7 separate regions of the Homo sapiens genome follow, and regions 2, 3, 4, 5, 6 and 7 are each linked to region 1. The links come from fine-mapping of genetic effects on plasma protein levels. Region 1 holds a variant in brackets. A gene starts in each other region. All regions are shown on their reverse strands. Region 1 has its middle 3.9 kb from the start of MRC1. Region 2 holds the start of KLK11 (kallikrein related peptidase 11). Region 3 holds the start of LRTM2 (leucine rich repeat transmembrane protein 2). Region 4 holds the start of CD14 (CD14 molecule). Region 5 holds the start of CTRL (chymotrypsin like). Region 6 holds the start of IL18R1 (interleukin 18 receptor 1). Region 7 holds the start of CD200 (CD200 molecule).

The links. A credible set is the group of variants that fine-mapping cannot tell apart. PIP is the posterior inclusion probability: the model's chance that the variant is causal. Protein levels are from antibody-based Olink assays in UK Biobank. Linkage for the fine-mapping came from a reference panel and not from the study's own genotypes, which makes the PIPs less certain.
Region 2: KLK11 starts here. The variant in region 1 is the best candidate, but not a certain one, in a credible set for the plasma level of the KLK11 protein (UK Biobank, PIP 0.77).
Region 3: LRTM2 starts here. The variant in region 1 is the best candidate, but not a certain one, in a credible set for the plasma level of the LRTM2 protein (UK Biobank, PIP 0.54).
Region 4: CD14 starts here. The variant in region 1 is the best candidate, but not a certain one, in a credible set for the plasma level of the CD14 protein (UK Biobank, PIP 0.88).
Region 5: CTRL starts here. The variant in region 1 is the best candidate, but not a certain one, in a credible set for the plasma level of the CTRL protein (UK Biobank, PIP 0.63).
Region 6: it holds the start of IL18R1, and the variant in region 1 is the best candidate, but not a certain one, in a credible set for the plasma level of the IL18R1 protein (UK Biobank, PIP 0.86).
Region 7: CD200 starts here. The variant in region 1 is the best candidate, but not a certain one, in a credible set for the plasma level of the CD200 protein (UK Biobank, PIP 0.87).

Annotation. Positions count from the first base shown.
Region 1 is chr10:17,803,408-17,807,499 of GRCh38, reverse strand. No RefSeq gene overlaps it. Among named protein-coding and RNA genes, the nearest start is that of MRC1, 3.9 kb to the left of the region's middle. The variant C/G (reference allele first, on the strand shown) is at 1,307.
Region 2 is chr19:51,025,954-51,030,045 of GRCh38, reverse strand. It overlaps KLK11 (kallikrein related peptidase 11), which reads left to right and starts at 3,430. Exons shown (of 6, transcript NM_001136032.3): 1 at 3,430-3,508. It overlaps KLK12 (kallikrein related peptidase 12), which reads left to right. Exons shown (of 6, transcript NM_001370125.1): 6 at 589-952. The coding sequence ends at 744. RefSeq lists a silencer at 1-86 and enhancers at 2,119-2,675, 3,235-3,792, 3,793-4,092.
Region 3 is chr12:1,818,875-1,822,966 of GRCh38, reverse strand. It overlaps LRTM2 (leucine rich repeat transmembrane protein 2), which reads right to left and starts at 2,402. Exons shown (of 5, transcript NM_001039029.3): 1 at 2,153-2,402. All of the region lies in intron 26 of CACNA2D4 (calcium voltage-gated channel auxiliary subunit alpha2delta 4), which reads left to right. RefSeq lists an enhancer at 2,086-2,832.
Region 4 is chr5:140,632,502-140,636,593 of GRCh38, reverse strand. CD14 (CD14 molecule) reads left to right here and starts at 3,419. Exons shown (of 2, transcript NM_000591.4): 1 at 3,419-3,525; 2 at 3,614-4,092. The coding sequence starts at 3,523. It also overlaps a transcript of TMCO6 not described here. RefSeq lists an enhancer at 3,775-4,092.
Region 5 is chr16:67,930,502-67,934,593 of GRCh38, reverse strand. It overlaps CTRL (chymotrypsin like), which reads left to right and starts at 2,732. Exons shown (of 7, transcript NM_001907.3): 1 at 2,732-2,793; 2 at 3,393-3,496; 3 at 3,595-3,674; 4 at 3,787-3,868; 5 at 4,006-4,092. The coding sequence starts at 2,742. It overlaps PSMB10 (proteasome 20S subunit beta 10), which reads left to right. Exons shown (of 8, transcript NM_002801.4): 8 at 1-88. The coding sequence ends at 34. RefSeq lists enhancers at 3,241-3,757, 3,758-4,092.
Region 6 is chr2:102,353,555-102,357,554 of GRCh38, reverse strand. It overlaps IL18R1 (interleukin 18 receptor 1), which reads right to left and starts at 1,759. Exons shown (of 11, transcript NM_003855.5): 1 at 1,155-1,759. RefSeq lists silencers at 1,705-1,764, 1,785-1,894 and an enhancer at 1,489-1,990.
Region 7 is chr3:112,332,903-112,336,902 of GRCh38, reverse strand. It overlaps CD200 (CD200 molecule), which reads right to left and starts at 3,747. Exons shown (of 6, transcript NM_005944.7): 1 at 3,679-3,747. The coding sequence starts at 3,690. RefSeq lists enhancers at 910-1,669, 2,166-3,122, 3,123-4,000.

The DNA of each region.
Region 1 (4,092 bases):
ACTGCAACCTCCACCTCCCGGGTTCAAGCGATTCTCCTACCTCAGCCTCCCAAGTGGCTGGGATTACAGGCGCGTGCCATGATGCCCAGCTATTTTTTGCATTTTTAGTATAGACGGGGTTTCACCATGTTGGCCAGGCTGGTCTCAAACCCCTGACCTCAAGTGATCCGCCCGCCTTGGCCTCTGAAAGTGCTGGGATTACAGACGTGTGCCACCATACCTGGCCCAGGGTTTGTTTTTTAATTACATAAGTGTGTATATCACATTAGTAAAATTAAAAATTAGGATCAGTACTAAAATCTGTGAAGTTTAAACAAAATGCAGCCAACCACCCCACAAAGAATTTACCCCATGACCTTGACCTCGTTGAAACAAAGATTTATCAGGCTACAAGAGGCCACTGGGGCAAAAAATAAATCCAAATCTTGGGGAAGGGATGTCACAGAAGATGGTGGTGTGGGAAACTCCAGGAATTCATCCCTCCATCTAAGCAGCCATCAAATGGACAGGAACTGACTGAAGTAACTGCAGGTGCTCCTCTACTCATGATCAAATTAGGCCCTGTTAAACCCAATGTGAGTTGAAATATGCTAAGTCAAAAATGCACTTAATACACCTGACCTACCAAACATCACGGCTCAGCGTAGCCTACCTTAAACGTGTTGAGAACACTTACATTAGCTTCCAACTGGGCAAAATTGATAGGGACAGGAGGCAGAGAAGTGCTAGGTAGAGAAGGGCAGGATCCCTGGCGAGGGCTCCACCCTCGGACCTGTGCCCACGGACCTAAGTGGGAACAGGCACTCCTGTTTTCATGCGCAAATGTTACATTTCCAAGACCACTATGATTCACCACACCCCGCATCCTGTGCCCATAAAAACCTGAGACCTTAATGGGCATAGACACAAGCGCTAAACATTGAGAAGAGTGAAGGAATAGAGCAGTGGAGAGCAGTGGGGTGGCGCAGCAGAGAAAGAGAGAAGAAGGACATCTGGACACCAAGGGGAGTTTGGCCAGCAGTGGTTGGAGAATAGTCTGGGGGGTTAGGCAGCCTGGCTCCAGGGGAAGACCACCTTCCCACTCCACTCCCCACTTCCAGTTCCCCATCCATCTCGCTGAGAGCCACCTACACCACTCAATAAAACCTTGCACTCAACCCTCCAGCCCACATGTGATCTGATTCTTCCAGTACACTGGGCAAGAACTCAGGCTGTCACACTGCCTCCCTGTCCTTGTGATAAGGCAGAGGGTCTATTGAGCTGACTAACACAAGCTGTCTGCAGATGGTATAGCTGAAAGAGCACA[C/G]TGTAACACACGCCCACTTGGGCTTCAGGAGTCCTAGATGCTGCCGTGGGGTGGAGCCCAAAAGCACTCCCCACAGCCTCTGCACCTGCCCATCTGCATGCTGCATGCTCCCCCCTAGGGGTTTGAGCAGCAGGGCACCAAAGGAGCAAGCCTCATTCCTGTCGCACCCCCTGCGAGGGTCATAAGGGAACTCTTCTATTTCAAAATCATCTAACAAAACCTATTTTATAATACAGTGTTGAGTATCTCGTAATTTATTGGATATGGTACTAAAAGTGAGAAGCAGAATGGGTGTATGGGTATTCGAAATACATTTTCTACTGAATGCACCATTTCTATTTCACATCATCATAAAGTGGGTAAATCATTATGTCTAACAATCCTAAGTCAAGGACCATCTGTATTTGGGAACTAGTCTAGTCAGAAACTTGGAGCATCCAAGGGAGAGCTTGATAAAGAGGCTGGTACATTTCAGCGAATTTCAGCTTCTCCCTGTGGTTATGGCTGTGTCAGGCAGCTGTGAAGGGGGAAGCAGCCCACACGCCCAGTGCAGCTAGGTGAGGCCAGGCCGGGCAACAAGGATTTAGCCCTCCAAATGTCAGGACTGTGTGTTCTGATTGGTGCTTTTATTTGCTTTCATCACTTCTCTTCAACTTAGTACTGGAAGTTCTAATAAGAGCATGTAGGAAAGAAAAAAATAAATAAAAGCATCCAAATTAAAAAGGAAGAAGTGAAATTATCTCTGTACACAGATGGCCTGATTTTAAATGTAGGAAGTCCTAAAGCTTACACACACACACACACACACACACCACACACAAATACCACATACACATACACAATAGACACATACACACCACACACACACACCACACACACATACATACACACGCCACACACACACACATACACACCACACACACAAACTGTAGCACTAACAAATTTAACAAAGTTGCAGGACACAAAATCAAAACACAAAAATCAGTTGAATTTTGATACACTTGTAATGAACAATCTGAAAATAAAATTAAGAAAATTCCATTTGCAATAGAATCAAAAAGAACAAAATACTTAGGAATAAATTTAACTACGTAGACAAAAGACTTGTCCACTGAAAACTACAAATGGTTGCTGAAAGAAAAAGACCTAAATAAATGAAAAGATACCCTGTGTTCATGAAATGGAAGACTTGATATTGTTAAGATGTCAATATTATCCAATATAATCTATAGATTCATGCAATCCCTATCAAAATCCCAATGATTTTTTTTTTTTGCAGAAATGAAAAACCCCATCCTAAAGTTCATATGGAATTTCATGGGAGTCTGCACAGCCAAAACAATTTTGAAAAAGAATGAAGTTGAACGATTCACACTTCCTGATTTCAAATCATACTACAAAATGACAGTAATCTAAACAGTGTGGTACAGGCATAAGGATAGCCATATAGGCCAATGGAATACAATAGAGAGGCCAGAAATAAACCTATGTGGGCAGTTGATTTCCAACAAGGTGCCAAAAGCATTCAATGAGGAAAGAACAGCATTTGTGCTGGGAAAACTGGCCATCCACAGGAAAGAGAATGAAATTGGACTCTTACCTTACATTAAATACAAAAATTAACCCAAAGTGGATCAAATGCCTAAACATAAGAGCTAAAAACTATAAAACTCTTAGAAGAAAACGTCAGGAAATAAAATCTTCACAACATTGGATTTGACAATGATTTCTTGGATTGGATACCAAAAACACAAGCAATAAAAAAGTAGATAAAAAGGCCTTTATCACAGTTAAAAACTGTGTCCACCAAAGTACACTATCTAGAAAGTGAAAAGACAGCACAAAATAGAAAATATCTGTAAATCACATATCTGATTAAGGGATGAATATCCAGAATATATTAACAACTACAACTCAATAACCACAACAAAACCAAATACAAAATGGTCGGTGGACCTGAACAGATAATTCTCCAAAGAAGATATACAAGTGGCCAATAAGCTAAGCACATGTAAAGATGCTCAACATCATTAGTCATTAGGGAAATGTAAATCAAAACTACAATGAAATAGAATTTCACACCCAAAAGAATTATTACTTTAAAAAAACAGAAAATAACAAGTGATGGTGAGAATATGAGAAATTGGAACCCTCGGGCATTGCTGGCGGGAATGTAAAATGGTGTAGCCACTGCGGAAAACAGCTTGGCAATGCCTCACAAAGTTACACTATAATTATCATACGATCCAGCAATTCTACTTCTAGGTATATACCCAGAAGAACTGAAATTAGGGACTCAAACACATATTTGTACAACAATGTTCAAAGAAGTTTTACTTATGATAGCCAAAAAGTAGAAGCAACTCAGGTGTCTGTTAGCAGATAAACAAATGTGGTATGAACATACAGTGGGATATTATAGAGCCGTAAAAAGGAATCCTGATACCTGCTATATGTACAACCTTTCAACATTTTGCTAAGTGAAATAAGCCAAACATAAACGGACAAATATTATGTGATTCCACTTATGTGAGGTATATAGAATAGGTAAATTCAGAGACATAGGAAGAAGAGAGTTTACTAAGGGGTGGGAGGTGGAGGATGGAGGAGAATGGAGAGTTATTGTTTAATGGGCACAGAGCCCATTGGATGTTGGATGATGAAAAGTTCTGGAAATACAGAGTGGTGATAGTTAAACAACATGGTGAATATGTTTAGAGCCATTGAATTGTACAGTTGAAATGACTACAATAATAATTGTGTTATGTATCCTTTACCAAACTTTT
Region 2 (4,092 bases), not on the chromosome of region 1:
CTCATTGGTCAGGGCCCCAGCCATTGTCCTTGAGAGAACTCTGTGCTTTTGATGGAGTCCTGCCCACCTTCCCTGGGATTGGTCATTTTTGATGGCACTCTCTCCCCTCATTGGTCAGAACCCCAGGCATTGTCCTTGAGAGAACCTCTATCCTTTATGGAGTCCCACCCTCCTCCCCTGGGATTGGTCATTGATAATAGTGTTCTCTCTCCTCATTGGTCAGGGCCCCAGCCATTGTCCTTGAGAGAATGCTCGACTCTTTATGTTGTCTTGACAGCCTCCCCTGAGATTGGTCATTAATGACTGTGCTCTCTCTCCTCATTGGTCAGGGCCCCAGCCATTGTCCTTGAGAGAACCTCTGTCCTTTATGGAGTTCCACCCTTCTTCCCTGGGATTGGCCCCTAGAGACAGTGGTTCTTCTCTTTTGGTTAGCCATTGCCATTGTCCTCCGGGAAAGTGATTATACTCTTTTGTCTAATGACCAGACTTGGAGCCCTCCCCAAGGCCCAGGACTGGGTTGAAGGGTTGGGGAGGAAAACAGAAATAAGATGTCTCCCTTGTTCAGACAGTACTTCTCTTCCCTTCCAGGGTGATTCTGGGGGCCCCCTGGTGTGTGGGGGAGTCCTTCAAGGTCTGGTGTCCTGGGGGTCTGTGGGGCCCTGTGGACAAGATGGCATCCCTGGAGTCTACACCTATATTTGCAAGTATGTGGACTGGATCCGGATGATCATGAGGAACAACTGACCTGTTTCCTCCACCTCCACCCCCACCCCTTAACTTGGGTACCCCTCTGGCCCTCAGAGCACCAATATCTCCTCCATCACTTCCCCTAGCTCCACTCTTGTTGGCCTGGGAACTTCTTGGAACTTTAACTCCTGCCAGCCCTTCTAAGACCCACGAGCGGGGTGAGAGAAGTGTGCAATAGTCTGGAATAAATATAAATGAAGGAGGGGCCATGTCTGTCCATTTGAAGTCCTCATGCTGGTTGAGACTGGAAGAAGGACTCAGCAGTTTCCCTATCTCATAGGAGTAGAAACAGAGCTCAAATAAGGCCAGGCACAGTGGCTCACACCTGTAATCCCATCACTTTGGGAAGCTGAGGCAGGTGGATCACCTGAGGTCAGGAACTCGGGACCAGCCTGGTCAACATAGTGAAACCCCAACTCTACTAAAAATGCAAAAATTAGCCAGGCATGGTGGCGCATGCCTGTAATCCCAGCTACTCAGGAGGCTGAGACAGGAGAATAGCATGAACCCGTGAGGCAGAGGCTGCAGCGAGCCGAGATTGAACCATTACACTCCAGCCTGGGCGACAGAGCGAGACTCCATCTCAAAAACAAACAAACAAAAAACCCAGTGCTCAAATAGGATGAGGGTCTTCCCTGAGTAGTTACTCAGAAATGGAGTAGAAAAAGTTACTTTTAATAATATAGGCCGGGTGCAGTGGCCCACGCCTGTAATCCCAGCACTTTGGGAGGCCGAGGTGGGAGGATGGCTTGAGCTCAGATTTCGAGATCAGCCTGGCAACACAGTGAAATCTTGTCACTACAAAAACACAAAAAATTAGCTGGGTGTGGTGGTGCGTGCCTGTAGTCCCAGCTACTTGGGAAGCTGAGGTGGGAGGATCACCCGAGCCGGGGAGGTGGAGGCTGCAAAGAGCCGAGATCATGCCACTGCACTCCAGCCTGGGCAATAAAGTGAGACCTTGTCTCAAAAACAAAAACCCAGCAATATAAATAAGACACATGTTTCTTCATCTGGCATAATAGAAATAGTGCCCAGAGCTTATAAGCTTTTCAAGAGTCCACAAAAGACCCGAAAAAGAAAAAGAAAATTGTTAGCTCCAAAATACCAGATGAAAGCTGCAAAGTCAACATTTATGACCATTTAATCCAATGTCCATAAAACGTAGCATTCTTTCCACTAGCCAACTGCAGTTTACTTTCTTGTAATGAAGCATACATTGTATCTTTAATGTGGGACGTGGCTTTGTTCTAATAAGACGAAGGGTGGAGTGCAGGCTTGGAAAGCAGGAGAGCTCAGCCTACGTCTTTAATCCTCCTGCCCACCCCTTGGATTCTGTCTCCACTGGGACTCAAGAGGTGAGGAGAGACCATCTCCCCAAATGCACTGAAGGGAAACTGGAGGAGGGAGGGAGTGAGGGGTGATCATACCAGCGGAGGCACATTTGCTGAGCCCCCCCGCAGTCTGCTCTTTCCAAGTGGACCCTCCTGGAAGCCTGATCCCAACCTCCCCTGCAAGCAGGTCTGTCACCCCCATCTCTCAGATGAAGAAACTGAGCCTTGCAGGGGTGGAGTCCCTTGTCCCCACGTCATAAGGGTAGTCATAGTAGTAGGAAGAGGAAGCACCTAGGTTTGAGGCCAGGGCTGGCTGCTGTCAGAACCTAGGCCCTCCCCTGCCTTGCTCCACACCTGGTCAGGGGAGAGAGGGGAGGAAAGCCAAGGGAAGGGACCTAACTGAAAACAAACAAGCTGGGAGAAGCAGGAATCTGCGCTCGGGTTCCGCAGATGCAGAGGTTGAGGTGGCTGCGGGACTGGAAGTCATCGGGCAGAGGTCTCACAGCAGCCAGTAAGTGAACAGCTGGACTCGGGCTGCCTGGGCGGCAGGGAGAAGCGGGCAGGGGAAGGGTCAGCAGAGGAGCGAGGCCCCAGAGGAGCCCTGGGGTGGAGCACAGCCAAGGGCTCTGTTCCCTTTCCTGGACTCGGCTTCCACAGGCCCTGACCTGCCTCCCCCACCCTCCGGTCCTGCCCCTGTGCCTGGCAGCAGCCCCACCTGTGTGACATCCCAGCACACCCCCCCTCTCCTTGCAAAGGAGAAGGGAGCGGCCTAGGGGAGGCCAGGGGCCCACCTGGGCTGGGGCTGTGGAGAGGGAGTGGCTGGGACGGGAGGAAAAAGAGAGACGGAGATTAGATGGAAGAAGAGGGATTTCAAGACAAATTGCCAGAGATGCAGTCAGAGAGACTGACTGAGAGACACAAAGATAGAAGGAATTAGAGAAAGGGCCACACAGAGCCAGACAGAGAGAGAAGAGTGGAGATGGAGACAGGGACGAGGACAGAGAAAGGCAGACAGACACATAGGGACAGAAAGAGAAAAATCACACAAAGTCAGAATTACTGAATGACAGGGAATGACACATAGAACGAGACACAGATTCAGAGACTCAGGGCAGGGAAAGGAAGGCTGCAGACAGACAGACAGACAGAGGGAGGCTGAGACACAGGGAGAAGAGGGGCTTGGAGAGGTGGCACAGGCAGGCAGCCAGTGCCTCAGAGGCCTCCGGGGAGGGCCCTCACACACACCCCGCCCCGGGGCATTAAGGCAGGGCTTGGAGGCCAGTCATCCTGGGCCCGCCCAGGGCCGCCCCCCTGCCAGCCCGCCTGCCTGGTGCCTGGCACCTGGCGCTCCAACCCAGCCTACCTGCTGTAGCTGCCGCCACTGCCGTCTCCGCCGCCACTGGGCCCCCAGAGCCCCAGCCCCAGAGCCTGTGAGTCCAGGAGGAAAGGGAAGCTGCCCCTCCCCGTCCAGGTGTCAGCCCTCCCCAAGGACACCTGTCCCACTCGGGCACCCATTTCTCCCTCTGCTCTGTCCTTCTCTGCTTGGGTGGGGGTTCCTGGCCTCTCTCTACACCTCTCACCTCCGATGGCTGTCCGCAGCCTCAGTTACCTCTAATCTCCATGGCTTCAGCTGCTGAGCTGGCCCTCTGCTCCCACCCCCGCTGGCCAGGGCAGCGGAGGGCACTGGCCCTCCCCTCGACCAGCCCCGCCCAGCTTTGCTTGGCTGTCCTTCAAAAGGGCAGGGGTTTGGCGGACAGGGCTTCAGCAAGCCGGGTGATGGGGGTCCCAGACATTGTCTGGGGCTGAGCCCCCTACTCCCCTCCAGCAGACCTCAAAGGCTCCATATCGCTCTGCTGCGAAGACAATGAAAAAGGGGTGGCTACGGAACGGTGTCTGGTTCCCCTTGTCCTTCCACCCCAAGCTGCTGGGGCCTGGCCAGCTCTCAAGGCAAGAAGGAAAACATCCTCTGACATGTGCCGGGGAGGTCCCATGGCTGACTTGAACAGGGCCGAAC
Region 3 (4,092 bases), not on the chromosome of region 1:
CTGGGCCTGCAGGGGCCGTGCCCTTCCACCAACCCCAGGAAGGCTGAGAGGGAGCCCGGAGAGTGGCCAGCCAGAGCCCCGGGCCAAAGACGGCCCGAGATTCCATGTGGCCAGGACGCAGGGGAGGCTGCCACAGCCGTCTAGGCTGGGCTCCGCCTACCGCTGCCTGTCTGGGCACCCAGGCCCTCTAGGACAGCTGCCCATCACCCCCATCACACACACTGCCCAGGCAGCAAGGAACCAGGTTTTAAAAATCTCTATATTTGTACTTGGAACAGCCATATACCCTCCTGGTTCATTTTAAAACACATGCCCCATCCTCACCCCCAGCCTCCTGCACCCCCGTTTCCTTGTCAAATATTCTCAATCTCAAACAGACCCTCTGGGAAGCAGAACAGAGAAGCCTCCTGAGTGGCCCCTCATGGGAGCTGGTCCCTGACATGAAGGAGGCTAAGGTGTCCACTGGGCCCTGGGGCCGGGCTCAGGGTGGTGTCCCTGGGGCTGGGCTCAGGGTGGTATTCCCAGGCAGGGCACAGGAGGCTTGGCTGGGGGAAAAAGGAGGAAGACCAGAGGGGCAGACAGCCTCTATGCTGGCTCCTTTCTCCTCTGCCCACCCCCAGAACTCCCAGACACCCCCAACCATCACATACATGCCATCCCCTCCTCCTTCCTACACTGCCCACTGAGGCCATAGCAGCCCAGAGGCGGCCCCTGGGCTCTGGTGCCTGGGAAACGGGAGCAGAGTTTGCTCCTCGTGGGCCCAGACAAGCTTCTGTCAAACCCCAAAGACACCAGATCGGCTGCTTAAGCAGCCTCTCTCCTTACCCCTCCCCGCGGGCCTGGCTTTCCTGGTCTCCCTCTTTTGGCAGTGCTGAGACTTTCTTTCTGCCGGTGGGGAGGTGGGGGTGGGAAAAGCTGGGCTCTTCTTGGCAGCTCGGAAGCTGCTGTCGGGTTTCCCTACCAGCTGGACTTCCCCCGCCTCAGCTCCACGTGCTCGGCTCCCTCCCCGCCCCCACCTGAGGCAGTTATCTAAGCTGCAGGGGTGTCATCTGAGTCACAAAGAGACACTGCCCAAGTAGCCCTGACAGCCGGGTGCCAACACCCCCCAGAAATGTGGACAGCTTGGGGGTGGGGGAGAGACAGGGCCGCCAACTGGAACCCAGCCCCAGACCTGCAGGGAGGTGCAGGAATGTGAACTTCCGACTCCTGGTCAGGCTGCTCCTCTCTCCAGCACTGTCCAAATGGGTCTGGGGGATTGAGAGCAACTGTCCCGCTCTACTCAGGGTGTCCATGCCCCCTGTGTGGGTCAAGAAGCCAGGCAGGCCTGGCCCCGCTGTGTACCCCCCACCCAAGCTCAGTGTCCAGCCCCCACTAAGGCTCCCTGACCCATTTGCAGATGGACGGCTGGGTGCACAGCTGCGGGACACCCCAGCAGGTTCTCGCGGGCCTGGTTCTCCTGTCTTGCCCTTGGGCTAGCAGGGAAGGGCTGCGATACTTCTCTCTCCTGCCCACTCCCAGCCTCACCCTCACCAGGGAGGCTTCATGCACAGCTGAGTGGGCCCATGCTCATCTGGGGGAGGGTTCCTCCACACCCTTGTCCAAGGACAGCCACCTGCAGGCAAGCTATAGGGAGGCCCAGGACCTGGGTCTGTGCCCATGCCTCTGACATCCAGGACCTCCTCCCTGCCACCCTCCACCCCAAGCCTTCCTCTGACCTGGCCCTGTCCCCAGCACCTGACTGCCATCCCAACCGCTTCCCATGACCCCCGAGTTTCTTGGGGCTGTCTGTGCAGAGCCGGGCACAACGACAGCACAAGGCTCTTGGCTGCTTCTCCCATGCTGCAGGGACCGGTTTCTATGCCACCCGGGACTGTCATCTGGCGCCAGCGCTGCCCTCCTCCCCACTTCCCAGCAGAATCCACAGCTCTTGTCCCCAGCACTGTGGGCTCAGAGTTCCCAGTGTCGTGCACCTTTGGGATGCTCAGGTGCCTGAGCCCGAGCAGCTTCTTCGGCCCCAGCAATTGCCTGCAGGTAGGAAGCAACTGCAGCTATTCCTGCAGGGCAGAGATGGCCGGTGCCCACTTCCCATGCCCCGACCACCCCCTGTCCCCACCAACCCTCCATTCCTTCCTACCAGCCACTCGGTACTCACCCGTCTTTACTCTGACTGCAAACGCCTTCAATCAGGTGGCTCTCAACCCTCCAGTAAGACCCTCCTGGGATTCCTATAGAAATCCAGACACCACCGGCAGGCAGAGCGCAGTGGGCACTGGTGCCAGAGTCTCCACTCAGCGGGAGCAGCGGCTGGCACGCAGCACACAGCACCAGGAGGTGGACTGCTTGTGGCAGACGGGGGACGGGGCTGCTGGGTCAGTCACAAACTGAGAAGGAAAGAGAGGGATGGAGGGAGAGAGAGAGAGGAGAGAGGGAAGAAAGGGGCGAGGGAGGAGAGCGCACGCGTGTGCGCGAGCAGCGAGCCAGAGTGGAGCGGGGAGTGACAGCTGGGGTGCATCTGTGATGACAGCGGCAGCAGCACACACAGGCGCACACCAGAGGCACCACGGCCGGCCGCGAGGGCAGCGCTCACCCTGGCCACGCTCACATTTCAGTGGAAAAAGGCGCCTGTGGATGAATCGCTGCCGACCACAGGGAGGAGGAAAGCGGTTTCACCACCACCTCCATCTTCCATCCTGCGCCTCCAGGCTCTCCCTCACCCCCCCGGCTGCACCTGTCTTCTGTGCCTCTCTCCTCTCTTCCCCTCCATCTGGGGAAAGAGGGACAGGCGCAGACACAGAGCAAGCGGCTGACTTCTGTTCCGATGGAGGCCCCCCTGGGAAGCTGGTCTTTCTCCTGTTTTAGAGACATGCGAGGCAGAGTCTCCCATCCTGCCTGAGAGAAGGAAAAACCGAACCCTTCTCTCGGTCATACGAAAGAAGGGTACACAGGCATGTCCATGTGCCAGATGACCCTACAGGAAAGGGCCCTGAGCCCCCACAAAGCCAGGGATCACATGGTCATGCAGAGGTCACTGAGCCTCAGGGTCTGACCACCCGACGCCAGGACTACTTAGGGAAGCAGAATGCCAGAGTTGGCAGGCTGGGAGTTTGGGCACAGGGCAGCCTGCAGCAGCAGCCTGCAGACCGTTCTCAGTGCCAGGGACGAGCTTGGCTTCTCAGGGCTCCTTGCTCTTATCTGTGATGGGTCAGGCATGCGAAGGGAAGAGACTGTCATTCAAGAACTTGGAGGCCTCTTTCTTAACCAATCAGGACAAAGCAAGTCAGAAAAATTGATATCCTAAGAGATGGGAAGTGGCTGATCTGAAGGCCAAGTGAGTCAGGGACCAAGCTAGAGGGGAGCCAGGGCCCCACCAGCCTGGAGCACGAACCCTAAATCCCCCTTCCTTTGCGTCCACTGCCTGTAGACAGATGAAGCACCGTGCTAGCGATATATCACCGTGTCCTATGTCCCTCTTCCATTTTGCCTGCTTTGCTGGAGGGGTTCACAGCCAGGACTGGGGTGGGTGTAGAAGAACCCCCTGGACTCAGGATGCCCCTAGAAGGATGCTCCTGCTCACTCCCTTCTGTCCGTTCTGCCGGGTCCCCGGGCAGCACAAGGCTTGAGCTGCAGTGTCTTTTACCTCTGGGGAGTCCCGCCTCTGACCTCTCATGCTGGTGCCTCCCACACATCCCACTGTCAAGCAAAAGAGGCTCCCACCTCCCCATAAACATACTTCCTGCTTCTCCATCTCCATGAAAGCGTGTTCTTCCCTGGGCCTGAAATGCTCTCCTGCCCATGGGTGGCTTCCCCCTTCCTTAAACGCCCCCTGCAAGGTGACGTTTCCCCGGAACACCACAGGACTGGCCCTGCTCCTCCTCCGATCTCTGGCATTCTCTTTGGGCCACCCTCATGTTGTGCAGGAGCTTTCTGTGGTCTGCTTCATCTCCTTTCCTTTTTTTTTTTTTTTTAATTTTTTTAGTATTTATTGATCATTCTTGGGTGTTTCTCGGAGAGGGGGATTTGGCAGGGTCATAGGACAATAGTGGAGGGAAGGTCAGCAGATAAACATGTGAACAAAGGTCTCTGGTTTTCCTA
Region 4 (4,092 bases), not on the chromosome of region 1:
CTTGAGCCCTTCCTCATGCAACTGTCTGGCTTCTTTTTTTAATTTTTTAATTAAAAAAAATTTATTTTCTTATTTCCCCAAGAAAAACTTTTTTATTTTTATTTTATTTATTTATTTTTTTTTTTGAGCCAGGGTCTTGCTCGGTTGCCCACGCTGCAGTGCAGTAGTGCAATCATGGCTTATCACAGCCTGGAACTCAGCCTTAAATGATCCTTTCAGCTTGGCCTCCCAAAGTGCTAGAATTACTGGCATGAGCCACTGCACCTAACCCAGGCTAGCTTCTAAGACCCACACTTGGCCCAGCAAGGTGGCTCATGCCTATAATCCCAGCACTTTGGGAGATGGAGGCAGGTGGATCACCTGAGGTCAGGAGTTCGAGACCAGCATGACCAACATGGTGAAACCCCGTCTCTACTAAAAATGCAAAATTAACCAGGTGTGGTGGCACGTGCTTGTAATCCCAGCTACTCAGGAGACTGAGGCAGGAGACTCGCTTGAACCCAGGAGGTGGAGGTTGCGATGAGCCAAGATTGCATCATTGCACTCCAGCCTGGGCAACAAGAGTGAAACTCCATCTAAAACAACAACAATAACAACAACAACAAAACCCACATGTGCTCCAGGTGGGGAAGATGAAAAAAGTTCCCAGCCAAAAGCTATATTCTGCCCAGTGTCTGCTCAGACAGCTACAGCTGCCCAAATTGCCTTTCTGTATCTACCTGTCTAGCAACACTGTTAACCCTGTAAGAACCAGCCCCATGTCCTGTCTTGTACAGGGCTGGCTGTTCCTTTCTCCAGACCATGTTCCTCCCCTCCACCCCTCTCCCCCAACAACACAAGCCTTTGGTTTCTCTTCTTTTAAGAGCCCTCTGCACTATGGACGGAAGTTCTGGGTTCATGTTTGCTCTACCCACCTCCTGGAGCACTTCAGGGACTTGTCTTTGTCATGTCTGTGTCCCAGGGCTTTCTACCAACCCTAGTACTCGGTAGACAAATGATAGACATTTGTTGAATCAAGCTGTGAGTTGGAGATCTTTGCAGAACCATCACTGCCCCTCTTAACTTGGAACTCCCCACCCAGAGTGCCTCCCCTAAGATGATGAGGTGTCAGACTTCAGTGGCCTGAGTTCTCTGAAAGCAGAGACTCTGAGAAAGAAGACTAGTCATCAAGACCACACTAAAAAGATGTGTTTCTGTGCCAAAGACTTTACTCACAAACAGGTAATACTATCATCTCCATTTTACAGAAGGGAGGCCCAAGTCTCATAACCTCAGTCGTAAAGCTGGGATTCCAAGACTGGCTATCTGACTTTGAGTCAGATATAATCATATCTTGGTCCTCAGGGATATCACAGAGGCCTGGCATGGCACCAGGGCATGGCCCAGTGCATTGGGGTATGCCCAACAGGACCCGCAGGGGGCAGTGATGAGCCTTCTTGTTTGGATTGGGGACAAATCTGCAGCTACTTCTTTCTCAATTAAAGAGGAAGTGGGAATTTAAAAAAGACTTTCTGCCGGGCACGGTGGCTCATGCCTGTAATCCCAGCACTTTGGGAGGCCGAGGCAGGTGAATCACCTGAGGTCGGGAGTTCGAGACCAGCCTGACCAACATGGAGAAACCCCATCTCTACTAAAAATACAAAATTAGCCGGGTGTAGTGGCACATGCCTGTAATCCCAGCCGCTCGGGAAGCTGAGGCAGGAGAATTGCTGGAACCTGGGAGGCGGAGATTGCAGTGAGCTGAGATCGCGCCCAGCCTGGGCAACAAGAACAAAACTCCGTCTCAAATAAATAAATAAAAGTAAAAAAGACTTTCAGGCCGGGTGTGGTGGCTCTCGCCTGTAATCCCAGCACTTTGAGAGGCCAAGGCGGGCGGATCACCTGAGGTCAGGAGTGCCTGGTCAACATAGTGAAACTCTGTCTCTACTAAAACTACAAAAATTAGCCGGGCATGGTGGTGGGCTCCTGTAATCCCAGCTACTCAGGAATCTGAGGCAAGAGAATTGCTTGAACTTGGGAGGCGGAGGTTGCAGTGAGCCAAGATCACGCCACTGCACTCCAGCCTGGGCAACAGAGCCAAACTCAGTCTCAAAAAAAAAAAAAAAAAAAAAGACTTTCATATAGTTCTTTCCCCAGAGGTCTAGGGATGTGGACCTGTGAGGGCTGTTGTAAATGCGTAGCTCCTTATTCTCTGGGACATTTGTTGTTTTTTTGTTTTGTTTTGTTTGCTGTTTTTTTCATTTTGTTTTGTTTTCTGTTTTTGTCTGTTTTTTGCGAAACTGGTGAGTTACTAATTAATCCTCATTCAACATAGTCCCATCCCTTCCTTCCTAGGGCACAGAGATTGTACTGAGGGGAGGGCAGGAGAGAGCAACGTGCAAGTGGGAAAACTGATTCAAAATACCTTGCTTCACAATTTCAGGACAGAAAATGGATAGTGTAAGTGACCCAGAGACTTGGCCAATGTGTCTCTGTTAAATACATCCACTTTTAAGAAAGTTAGTACTGCCAGGCACAGTGGCTCACGCCTGTAATCCCAGCACTTTGGGAGGCCGAGGCGGGTGGATCACAAGGTCAGGAGTTCAAGACCAGCCTGGCCAAGATGATGAAAACCTGTCTCTACTAAAAAATACAAAAATTAGCTGGGTGTGGTGGTGGGCACTTGTAATCCCAGCTACTCGGGAGGCTGAGGCAGAGAATTGCTTGAACCCAGGAGGCGGAGGTTGCAGTGAGCCGAGATCATGGCACTCTACTCCAGCCTGAGCAACAGAGCAAGACTCTATCTCAAAAAAAAAAAAAAAAAAGAAAGAAAGTTATTACTTAATCAAAGGAGCAAGGAAAAAAAAAGGAAGGGGGAATTTTTCTTTAGACCAACTTCCTTTTCTTGAACCTAATTCTACCCCCCTTGGTGCCAACAGATGAGGTTCACAATCTCTTCCACAAAACATGCAGTTAAATATCTGAGGATATTCAGGGACTTGGATTTGGTGGCAGGAGATCAACATAAACCAAGACAAGGAAGAAGTCAAAGAAATGAATCAAGTAGATTCTCTGGGATATAAGGTAGGGGGATTGGGGGGTTGGATAGTGCAGAGTATGGTACTGGCCTAAGGCACTGAGGATCATCCTTTTCCCACACCCACCAGAGAAGGCTTAGGCTCCCGAGTCAACAGGGCATTCACCGCCTGGGGCGCCTGAGTCATCAGGACACTGCCAGGAGACACAGAACCCTAGATGCCCTGCAGAATCCTTCCTGTTACGGTCCCCCTCCCTGAAACATCCTTCATTGCAATATTTCCAGGAAAGGAAGGGGGCTGGCTCGGAGGAAGAGAGGTGGGGAGGTGATCAGGGTTCACAGAGGAGGGAACTGAATGACATCCCAGGATTACATAAACTGTCAGAGGCAGCCGAAGAGTTCACAAGTGTGAAGCCTGGAAGCCGGCGGGTGCCGCTGTGTAGGAAAGAAGCTAAAGCACTTCCAGAGCCTGTCCGGAGCTCAGAGGTTCGGAAGACTTATCGACCATGGTGAGTGTAGGGTCTTGGGGTCGAACGCGTGCCACTCGGGAGCCACAGGGGTTGGATGGGGCCTCCTAGACCTCTGCTCTCTCCCCAGGAGCGCGCGTCCTGCTTGTTGCTGCTGCTGCTGCCGCTGGTGCACGTCTCTGCGACCACGCCAGAACCTTGTGAGCTGGACGATGAAGATTTCCGCTGCGTCTGCAACTTCTCCGAACCTCAGCCCGACTGGTCCGAAGCCTTCCAGTGTGTGTCTGCAGTAGAGGTGGAGATCCATGCCGGCGGTCTCAACCTAGAGCCGTTTCTAAAGCGCGTCGATGCGGACGCCGACCCGCGGCAGTATGCTGACACGGTCAAGGCTCTCCGCGTGCGGCGGCTCACAGTGGGAGCCGCACAGGTTCCTGCTCAGCTACTGGTAGGCGCCCTGCGTGTGCTAGCGTACTCCCGCCTCAAGGAACTGACGCTCGAGGACCTAAAGATAACCGGCACCATGCCTCCGCTGCCTCTGGAAGCCACAGGACTTGCACTTTCCAGCTTGCGCCTACGCAACGTGTCGTGGGCGACAGGGCGTTCTTGGCT
Region 5 (4,092 bases), not on the chromosome of region 1:
GGAGGAAACTGTGCAGGCTATGGAGGTGGAGTAAGCTGAGGCTTAGAGCTTGGAACAAGGGGGAATAAACCCAGAAAATACAGTTAAACAGATGGCTGTGTCATTCTTGAGTGGAATGGGGTGGGCAGGCAGCCAGCAGGGCTCTGTAGCTAAGGCGTCCCTGCAGGGGCCATTACCTACCATAGCTCTAGTGTCTGGCCTAAGAGATGCCCTTCACCCATAACCTCAGGCACCTACAACTCCAGAACCCCAGCCCTGGCCAGCATTGCAGGCTTGGTCTCCACCCAAACCTTCCTTCTGACTCCACACTTGAAGGCTCCCCCACCACTCCACTGTCTTGCTCTTGCCCTCTAGTCCACTGGAGACTTGTAAATTATGAAATACCCCATGTACTACCCCCTCCTAGAGACTTTCCATGGCTCCTCAGTGGCCCAGGACAAAGCTCATACCTTTCAATCAGGCCCCCACAGGCCCCACTGAGGGCTAAAGTGCTGACAAGAGGAGCCGCTCCCTGACTCCAAGGCAAGTTCTCACCAAGCACTCCTCAACCTCGCAACATCTTTACCTGTGACACCCCTTAGATGACGAGGCATGCCTGCACTGCTCACGTGAAGCTCGTCTTCTGTCTGCACATGCTGGGCTTGTGACTCCAAGTTTTCCAGGCTAATAAGGGTCACAGGACTCACATGGGGAGAGATGACACGTTTCTCCAACAAACCTTTGCTGGGCCCCTGCTGAGTCTCAGGCCTGGCTGCTGGGTGCCAGCAAGAGCATCCTGTCCTCAGCGAGAACGGCTGAACTCCGCTGGAGCTTCAGAAATGTCAGGGAGAGTCTACCCAGGGCCCAGGGAGGGTCTATGCCGGGCTGCACATCCCCAGGCCGCTGAGTGTGCTCCCTGCACCCCAACATTCTATTAATGAACATTTGTAAATGTAACAGAAAAGTAGAAAGAGTTGTATATTGAATACCCTTATACTGTCAGGTCACCACAGACCTGACAGTATTTTGTTATATTTGTTTTATCATCTATTCATCCCTCTATCCATTAATTCATCGCTCCTTTTTTTTTTTTTTTTTTTTTTTTTGAGACGGCGTCTCGCTCTGTCACCCAGGCTCTGGAGTGCAAATATTTTGTTATATTTGTTTTATCATCTATTCATCCCTCTATCCATTAATTCATCGCTCCTTTTTTTTTTTTTTTTTTTTGAGACGGAGTCTCGCTCTGTCACCCAGGCTCTGGAGTGCAGTGGCGCAATCTCAGCTCACTGGAAGCTCCGCCTCCCAGGTTCACGCCATTCTCCTGCCTCAGCCTCCCGAGTAGCTGGGACTACAGGTGCCCGCCACCACGCCCGGCTAATTTTTTTTTTTTTTGTATTTTTAGTAGAGACGAGGTTTCTACTGAACCTGTTAGCCAGGATGGTCTTGATCTCCTGACCTCATGATCCGCCCGCGTCGGCCTCCCAAAGTGCTGGGATTACAGGCGTGAGCCACCGTGCCCAGCCAATTCATCTCATTTTTTGGCTGATGCTGTTTCTTTGAGATGGGGTCTAGCTCCATCGCCCAGGCCGGAATGCAGTGGTGCACTCATGGCTCACTGCAGCCTTGAACTTAAGGGCTCAAGTGATCCCTCCTGCCTCAGCCTTCTGAGTTGCTGGGACTACAGGTGTGTACCATCATACCCAGCTCATTTCTTAATTTAAAAAAATTTTTTTTGTAGAGACAGGGTTTCATGATGTTGCTCAGGCTGGTCTCGAACTCCTGGAATCAAGCCTCCTACGTCTGCCTCCCAAAGTTTTGGGATTACAGGTGTGAGCCACCACACCCAGCCCTGATCTGTTCTTGAATCAGTTAAAGCCCTCACACTCCCAGAAGGCCGCCAGCCAATGCACCTGTTGGAACTTTGCACACAGGGTGTCTTCTCCCTTCAAGCTTGGTCTGCAGCTCAGTAACAAATGGGCTACAGACACCAGGGGCTTGCCCATGGGAGCCCCAAGGCCTAAAGAGGGTGGCAGAGATTTGATGTCTGTCACTCTCCACCTGCAGCCTCAGTCCACGGTCGGCCAGGCACCAAGAGCTCACACTTTGCCCTCCTAAATGCCAGGCCCTTCATAAGTATCATCTCATTGTTAAGAGCGGAGGCTTCAGCGCCAGACAAATGCGAGTTTGTGTACAACTCAACCACGTGCTGGTGGGAGAGTCACCATCTCTGAGCAGACCTGTGACTCCTGTTCCAAATGGACGAGGAACCACTGCGATGATGTGTTAGGACTCCCAGCCTGCCAGAACCTCACAGCCCCTGGCCCTTCACAGCAAAGTTGACCGCAGTGAGCATTCCATCCACCAGTCAGAACACCCTGGACGCTGAGCGGCCTTCTCTGAAAGCCTGGTGCCTTTGTTAGCCCTGGGTGACTCCTGTGATCCCAGCCACCAGGTTGTCACTATAGACCTAATTTAACCATCTGTCCTCAGTACCGAGGGCTCAACATTTGGAATGGGAGGTGGTTCTGGGAGCCAATTAGAGGCCAGGCTTTGGGAGGTGGCAGAGGTGAGTCTCACACCTGGGCTCTGTCTGATAAGTCTAGGTCTCGGTCAGGGGACCTTGGCCTAAAGGGCCTGTCTTGCCTGGAGCGTGGGAGGGGGCTGAGTCTACACAGCTGGCCTGGCCTCAGGCCTGGAGCTTTAGCTCAAGGACGAGAAGACCCATAAAGCCAGACCCAGCTCCCAACCTCACATCTGCCACGATGTTGCTGCTCAGCCTGACCCTAAGCCTGGTTCTCCTCGGCTCCTCCTGGGGTGAGTGGGCCAGGACCAGCCCTGATTCAGCCCTGGGAGCAACTCAGCTCCCAGCAACAGCCCAGGGAAGGAGCTAGGCTGGCTGGAAGGGACGAAGGTGGACAGAGTGGGCAAAAGAAACAGGATATGCCAGGGCAGTGGAGCAGGGAACAGGCCTGCAGGGCTGGGAGGGGGCAAGAGGTGGGGTGGTCTCACAAATAGGACCAGAGATTGAGCCAGGCCCTGGAGCCCGGGAGGGTTTAGGAAGCTGAGACAGGAAGACCTGTCCATGTCTTTTAGAAAGAACCTTCTGGCTGCATGAAGGGTATGAACTGTTCAGGTCGGGAGGGGGCAGAGAGACCAGGGGTAGAGATGGGGAACAGCGGGGACTAGGCTGGAGACAGATGTAGGAGAACAGCAGGGCTGGGGGACTGGGTGGATAGGGATAACCAAGATAGCTGTGGGGCCCGAAGGTGCTTGCATGTACCCTGTTGGGGAAGGGGTAGTGCTGTACCCTCTCGACAGACCTCTCTGGGGTGCACAGCCTGGGGCACCCAAAAGGAGGTGGGGAAAGATGGGCTGAGGCATGGGAAGCAGGTCCTCATTAGCCCAATGGCCAGGCTGCGGCATTCCTGCCATCAAACCGGCACTGAGCTTCAGCCAGAGGATTGTCAACGGGGAGAATGCAGTGTTGGGCTCCTGGCCCTGGCAGGTGTCCCTGCAGGTACACCACCAGAGGGGTGGGCAGGGTCCTGGGTACGTCATGCCTAGGGGCAGCCTCAGCAGCCCACCCCCACTCTGACCTCTGAGCCCTGACCACAGGACAGCAGCGGCTTCCACTTCTGCGGTGGTTCTCTCATCAGCCAGTCCTGGGTGGTCACTGCTGCCCACTGCAATGTCAGGTGAGTGCCTGCATTCCACCTGCCCCGCCCCTCGCCTCTTCCTGCCTCCTCCCCTGGCTGTCCCCCTCTCGCGCTGGCCTCCCTGCAGCTGCCTAATCCCACCCCCTTGCAGCCCTGGCCGCCATTTTGTTGTCCTGGGCGAGTATGACCGATCATCAAACGCAGAGCCCTTGCAGGTTCTGTCCGTCTCTCGGGTGAGTGCCTGGGCTGCAGACACGGAGGAAAAGTGGGCAGTGCAGGTGGGTGGGTGCTGGGAACGAGGAATTCAGGACATGCCCTGGCCTACCCTGCTCAGCACCCATCAGAACATGGACTGTTTCTGACCCCACAGGCCATTACACACCCTAGCTGGAACTCTACCACCATGAACAATGACGTGACGCTGCTGAAGCTCGCCTCGCCAGCCCAGTACACAACA
Region 6 (4,000 bases), not on the chromosome of region 1:
CACTCTCTGGTGAGGTCCCTGAAGGCAGGGACCCTGCCTTTTCTTTTTTTTCTTTTTTTTTTTTGAGATAGAGTCTCACTCTGTCGCCCAGGCTGGAGTGCAGTGGCACAATCTCTGCTCACTGCAACCTCTGCCTCCCAGGTTCAAGGGATTCTCCTGCCTCAGCCTCCCGAGTAGCTGGGATTACAGATGCATGCCACCATGCCTGGCTAATTTTCTGTATTTTTAGTAGAGACGGGGTTTCACCATGTTAGCCAGGATGGTCTCGATCTCCTGACCTCATGATCCGCCCACCTCAGCCTCCCAAGTGCTGGGATTTAGACCCTGCCTTTTCAATCCACATTCCTAGGCCTTAGCCTTAGTTCTCAGCCTTTGGATGTATATTTGTGCAGGGAGAGGGAAAACACTGTCCCCAGAACCTGCACAAACCCAATTCCCCAAATTTACCCCTCCTAGCCCATCCAAGGCCCTGAGGTTGAGAGGTGTGCTCCCAATAGCAGCACTGTGTATGACACAAAATCAGTATTTGCAAAGGGTCTTGAGAATGAAGCAAGGGAAGTCAGTGAAATGAATACAATAATCTTGGATCTCTGTATCTGGCTGCAATTGACACCTCATTAATTTGTCTGATAACTGCGATGCAAGGTGCTGGGCATTTTAACTTCCCAAGGCTGGGCAGAAAAAAGACAAAGGCTCTGGAATCAGAAAAACTGTAGGTGTGGATCTGGGATCTACTACTTAGTAGCTGGATACTCTTGGGTAAATGACGGAATTCCTCCTCCCTTTTATTAAAGCATAATAATAGTTCCTATTTCATGTGGCCCTTAGGAGGATTAAGTGAAAATAAGATATCTAAAAATTTTCTACAGTGTCAGGCACACAGTAAGCACTTAAAAAATGACAACTATTGTTATCATTTATTTCAGTCGTTCTCACCTCTCCAGAAAATAATTGGGGATGTCTTAATTTCTAAAACTATACTTTCAGAGAAAGACAGGATGCTGTCTCATCAATTATTCACACGTATTCACACACACACTATCTCTCTCTCTCTCTTAATTGATCTTGTTTTGAGAATCCCTCCCCGGATGGTGGTCTTCCCTTCCTCTGGGGGGTGGGGAGGGGATGCGGGTGGCAGCGGAGCCCACCCTTACCTTCAGAGAGGCGTCCCCGAGGCTGGGGCGGGGGCGGCAGCTCCTCCTTCACGCCAGGTCGCGACTGCGGAGGCCAAGTTCAGAAAGTAGGTGAGAAGCAGCGATCTCCGCCTCCTGACTACCGTGGAAAGTGAAAGAGAGGTGTGATTAAAGAGATAAGGCACCCAGAGAGGGCTACAAAAAAAAAAAAAAAGAAGAAGAAGGAAAAAAAGTAGGAACAGAAAGAAGAATGTCAGGCGTCTGGCAGCTCCTGGCTGCTAACCCCGGCCGGTGGAGGCTGCAGGTGGGCACTGCCCGCGGTCGGGCGAAGCTCCGGGTCCGGGAGTGTAGCGGTCTGGGGCGCTCTCAGTCTGGGGCGCTCCCTGGCGTAGAATCCTCCCTGACTCGGAGGTCCCGGTCTGGGGACCCTCCGGTCCGGGTGCTCCTCGCAGCCGTGCTCCAGGACCGGCTCCTCCACCCAGACGCCCCGCGTGGAGTTACCGGAGCTACTGGATCGCGGGGTCCAAAGGTTGCTGCTGGAAAACCCAGCGCCTTGCCCTTTTCCCGCGGACGGCGTGGGCCCCAGGCGTCTGGCGCTTCCTGCCCAGCCGCGCGGCGCGGGTCCCGGGAAAACCCGGGCTGTAGCCGGGTGACCTGCGGGGCCGGAAGGGGGCGCGCCCGGGCCGCTCGCAAGCACCCTGCAGGCCGCGGTTCACAGCAGAGGATGCCAGGAGGGAGGACCGCTGGCCGCAGCGGCCGCCCGGCTCTTCAGAGGAAGAGGAGGGGAGGGCTGAGGGTGGAAGAGGGGTCCCCGGGGGATGCCGAAGGTGAGAGGGGCTCCGCGTCTCAAGTACACAAATGCGCCCCAGGCTTTTTGCTTTCCCAGAAGGATGGGAGTTCACTATAGGGAAGTAATAGAGAGGGGTGCAATTGTTGAAGTTTTAATTTTTTTTAAGGAGGCCAAAGGGGAATGTGTGTTTCTAGATTTTTATTTTGTGGCAGAACTGTTATTTAACCAAAGGAAAAGGGAAACCCATAGCCGACAGGCAAAATGTTCAATTGGACAATGATTTTAATTCTTTTTACCCAATTTAGATAATTCACCACATAATAAATAAAAATATGTAATTATCTCAATAAATGCAAATAAAAGCATCTGGCAAAATTCAACACCCTTTCTGAATTAATAACGATCAGAAAACCGAGAGTAGAAATGATCTTTCTTAATCTGATAAAGAACATCTATAAGAAACCTACAGGTGACCTCATAATAGTGAAACATTTTACTTTTTCCTAAGATTAGTAATGAGATAAGGATTTTGGCTCCCACCTGGGACAACTGCTTTGCAACAAGTGAAGAAATAAAAATAAAATTAGAAAGCATAAAGATTGAGAAGAAAGAATTAAAACTACTGGTTTTAACAGAGAGCATAATTATATGTAGACCAACTTTTGAAATCTACAAAAAAAAAAACTACTGGAAATATTAAGTTTATCAAGATCATGGAATATAAAAATCAATAGCAATTCTATATATTAGAGATGGAAACTTGAAAAGTGAAGTTTGTTAAAAATGCCATTTACCATAGCATTTAAAAATCAAAATACCAAAGTATAAATTCATTGGATAATATATGAGATATCTCCTGTGAAAACTACAAAATATTGCTAACAGAGATGAAACATCTAAGTAATAAAGGGATATACCACGTTTACGGATTGGAAGACTTAAGACATCTATTCTCCACACTGTATATTTTTAGACTCTATATATTACAGAATCTATATATTTAATACAATTCAATCCAAATCCCAGGAAAATTTTTCAAAGAAATTAAGAAGCTGTTTCTAAAATTCATATGAAAATGCAAATAATCTAGGATTGTCCGGACAGAGACGGAGTTTTGCTCTTCTTGCCCAGGCTGGAGTGAGTGCAATGACGCGATCTCGGCTCACTGCAACCTCCGCCTCCCGGGTTCAAGCGATTCTCCTGCCTCAGCCGCCCGAGTAGCTGGGATTACAGGCATGCACTATCACGCCTGGCTACTTTTGTATTTTTAGTAGAGACAGGGTTTCTCCGTGTTGGTCAGGCTGGTTTTGAACTCTCGACCTCAGGTGATCCACCCATTTCAGCCTCCCAAAGTGTTGAAATTACAGGGGTGAGCCACCTGCCCGGCCTGTCTGGGCAATCTTGACAAAGATGAACAAAGTTGAGAGACTTATACTGACTTGAGGATTTATAATAAGGCAATAGTAATTATGGCAATGTGATATTCACAGAAACATACAAACATACAAAATAGAAAGTAGACTAATAGATCCACACATATCTAGTCAATTGATTTTTTTAACAAAGCACCATGTCAATTCAGTGGGGAAAAAACAGTCTTTCACAAACATTGCTGGAACAGCTGGGTACCTCTACAGAAGAAGCAGCAGCAGAAAAAAGAACTTTGTCCTTGCCTTGTTCTATATACAAGTATCAATTCACAATAGACCATGGACCTAAACATAAAAGCTAGAACCGTAAATATTTCATAAAAATACAGAGAAGACCCTTGAACAGGCAAAAAATAAATAAATAAATCATGCTCTTGGACAGGCAAAAAAAAAAAATTCTTAGCTAGGACACAAAAAAAAATAGCCATTTGGGACACATTGATTAATTGGACATCACCAAAATTAAAAATGTCTACTAAACAAAGACATCACTTAAAAATGAATAGATAACCCTGGAAATATTCTCACTTTACATCTATCTGGCAAAGAACTTGCATCCACAATACATAAATAATTCCTACACATCAACAATATAAAAAGAAATACAATTTAAATAAGGCAAAATATTTTGCCTTCACTAAAAAATA
Region 7 (4,000 bases), not on the chromosome of region 1:
TTTCATTAGAAACAGTCTCTTATTTGGCTCTGTCTATTCTTTTATGGTATTTAGCAGTATGATCATAGTCTTCCATAAAGTAGTGGTCTCTTGGTGCCTGTCTCATTGCCCCCCAAGAACCTCAATATCCACTGAATCCTGTTGCTTTAGCGGGATGTCCTGACCACTTTTTCCTTAATGAACCCATCACGGGCATCCCTTTCTGAAGTTGTTTGTATGTTCTTATCGGCTCCTGTTTAGCCCCATCTGTTGCTACTATAATTTGAAGCTTATTTCTAGAATATTGGCCCATAATCACTTAAATGACCTTGCTTTAGGGTCAGGATCATTGCTAAAGGGTGGTGTTCTACCTGTGGGAATCCCATCCCCTCATTCTCGGTGTTTGCCTTAACTAAGCCCTATTTTTGCCATTCCTTTTAGATACAATGACTTCCCTGCTGGAATTCATTTTCCTTATCACTCCAAGCTGGGTCTTTCTGTTTGCCTTTCAATTTCTCTGGGATTTTTATTGTCTTGTGATGGCCTTCTTCCTGTGGGCTCAGGAGCAGCGGGTCGGGAATGGAGTTCTCAAGGATCTAAATCTCTCCTCCTTTACCTGCCACAAGGATTTCTCTTCCTTTTCCTGTCCAATGGGAGCCACTCAATTTTAATATCCTCCTACTCAATGGATTTGTTAATTTTAATTCCAGTCAATACATGCCCTTTTCTTTCCTTATGAAACAGCCACGACCTAAACTTAATGAGGGAAATTTCAAGAGGAAGTACCAAACCAATTCCAAATAACAGGTGTTTCACAAACATTAATCTTATATAATAAGCTTCATTTTTCCTCTAGCAAGAGAAGTTACTAACCAAGTCCCTTCATAGGTAGGGGTAGAAAATTACCTGGTAATCATTGATGGTGGTCTTTCCTAGGAGTGTAGCTGTAAGGAGAGGGCCCCCAATTGTCCTGGTCAGAGTCTGTGGTTTGAGATCAATGAGATGATAAAAATTAGAGCCAATATTGTCTCAGCTCTCTTGGGGCCAACTTGTACCCTGGAGGTGGTTGTGTGTGTTGAGCACCAGAGCTGTCATGGTCTGGGTGAAGACCCAAGATCATGTTAGAGACTGGCCTGCTGGAAAAGGGCTCTTCTTCAGCATTCACTCTAACTGCCAGAGACAAGGAGTCTCCATCACTATCTCCATCACAGTATTCCTGATGGATCTTTCAGGATAGATGTCCTGGAAGGAATGATGTCTCGCCGCCCTGTGGCCTATCCCAAGTGCTGCCACATACCTGAGTGTCTTCTTGTCTTCAGCTAGAGAGAACCAATCACTTAGACTCTCATCCTGGACCCCATGCAGTGGCATCATAGTACACAGTAATACTGATCTTTGTGATGTAAGTTGCTTTTTCCTTACATCTCTAAGGCTACAGAGAATTCAAGATTATATCATCTGAAGGTGCCATTAGGACAAATTATTCTTTGCAGATATATTTTATTATTCGATACCCAAGCATACCATAAGCATGCTATCCCTTCCTTGTGACTTCTCTTCCTGTCTTCATAGGTCTAAGACTAATAACATAGTCACTGCTCTTTGAGAAACCCAAGATGGTTCAGCTGCCTGAATACATACAGCCTACAAAGATCTGCTCACCCTGCCCATCCACTGCTGGGTATTATACTCACAAAGGCTTTGGTTTTGAAGTGAAAAAAAATATATAACTCGATAATTTTCTCAGTATTACTGAGACTGTTCCATCCTATCTAATTATCTAGGAAAGTCAGAAAAAATCAGGCCAAATATTTCCTCAGGCTCCATTGCCAGTGCCCACCCAACACATTTTGTTTTATTTTCAGCTAAGGCAATTGTGGAGACAGATACTGGCATTCCAATTCTATGTGATATTTTTTAAACCATTAGGCTTCTCTGACGTGGAAATCCAGGCTCTACCAGAGGCCATGATGAAGAATGCAGAATGGACAAGCTCTCATAGAGAAAATCTGTGTTTTAGGACAAGAGAGAAAGCAGATACATACCAAACCATATATTGTGGACTGGGAGCCAGCAATGTTAAGAAACAAAACACAGTGATTGAGGCAAAGGAAATCAGAAGGAAAGCCTTACTCTTAAATAGATACGTATTTTTATTTTACAGGTTTTTTTTTTCCTCGAGTCTGTGCAGAATAACTGAAAATACGACCAATCTGAAAACAACAGTATTTATATGTTTACAGGGAGGTGACCGGGGCTAAAACAAATACTAGATTTGTGAGCAAAAGAAATCATTTTACCTCTCTGAGACTCCGGAAAAGTAATAGTACCAATCTAATGGTTAAAAAGACTAAATGAAGTAGTATATAAAGCTCCTAGAATACTGCCAGTAGAAATAAGCACTAAATAAATGTTGCTCTTATCTCACATAGTTATTATGAGAATTAGGCAATTAAAGCACTTAGTATAGAGCCTAGGTTATAGTAAATGCCAATACGTGTTAGGTAGCTAAAAAAATTAATCGATCAAATCATATAGGGGGAACTACAGTCCTGAAAACAAAGAAGCCCACTTATAACCCTTGCCATGCAGTCCAGGGTTCACAAAAACCTGGGTCTTACCAGACAGCTGCCCACCTGGTAGCTATATTGCCCCTATTCATGCCTCTTCCTCAGCAAGTTTCTATGTCCAAATCCACATTACCCCACATGTAGTCACAAGGACTTGGAAATATCAGCCTTTCCGCCTGTTTATGTGTAAAACGAGGTAATAATTCATTTTTAGAAGGATAGTTACAAAGAAGATTAACAGCATCTAGCTTGCAGTAGACCGTAGCTCACAGACCACCATTCTCCTTTGTTAAGAAAGACAGTGAAATCATTGGCTATGTGGTCTTGCCAACAAACCATACATGAAAAAATTATCTTGAGGCATTCACTGTATTTGGATTCTTATACCAATACCATTGTATTTGGATTTCATATACCAATGGGATATATGAAAACCTTCTCCGTTTTTTGTCTTGTAAGCTGGTTCCGAATAAACAAAATGTCTGTTTCTCTAGATACCCGGGGTTAACCCTTCAAAGCATTATGATCACAGAGCATTTCAGCTCTCTCAAGTGTAGCTTCAGCTTTAACTGATCCTTCATGGCTTCCCCCAGGCAAGGGCTAGGAGGGAGAAAGGGGCTGCATAACAAAGAGGAGACGCAGGAGCTCTCCCGGAGAAAGCGAGCCTGGAAATCTGTATCTCCGCCGCAGCTTTTGGTGCCAATATGGAACCAATACAGCATTTCTCTTTCCCTTTTGGGGGCAGTTTAAAATAGGCTGTGCCTCCCCAGTTTTGGGAGCTGGAGCCAGTGAGCCGAGCCGAGCCTGCCCGGAGGATGCGCCAGCTTCGTCAGCGCGGATCAAGAGCCCCCGGAGCCCCGGCCTGGTGCATCTTTTTTTCAGGCAATTGGAATGGAGAATCTGGACGCCAGCAGCTGCCTGTAAACCACCCTTTGGAAGGCAAAATCCGTTTCTCAGCAAGAGAAAGCGCTTAGAGAAAAGCGCTGCCATCAACACCGCTGATCTAGTCCCCGGACCAGATTGTGGCAAGAGCCGAAGCTCCGCGCCTTCCACTCGCCGCCCGCCCCAGGGCCACCGGCTCAACATCGCCTGCCCTGCGCCCTCCTTCCCAAGCCCCGGCCCCGCTCACCAGCCTCTCCATCCTTGCTCCTGGAGGCGCGCGCGAGGTGGCTGACTGCGGATGTGCGCCTGGAGCTCTGCTAGGCAGGCGGGAGGAGCGTCACCTGTGCCCCTGCCGCACCTCCCGCCTCTTCCTCCTCGCTAGCCCCCTTCTCCCACTCCGTTTTCCCCACGCCCTCACAGGAGCGGAGGCTGTCTGTGTGGGGGGAATTAAATGATGTTTATATTCAGCTTTGTCTATTTTCAGACATTTTTCCCTTTTCAAAGGTGACCGCTGGGGAAACTGACAAAGTGTTTGGAAAAAAAAAATCATTTTTTTTTTTCCATTTTCC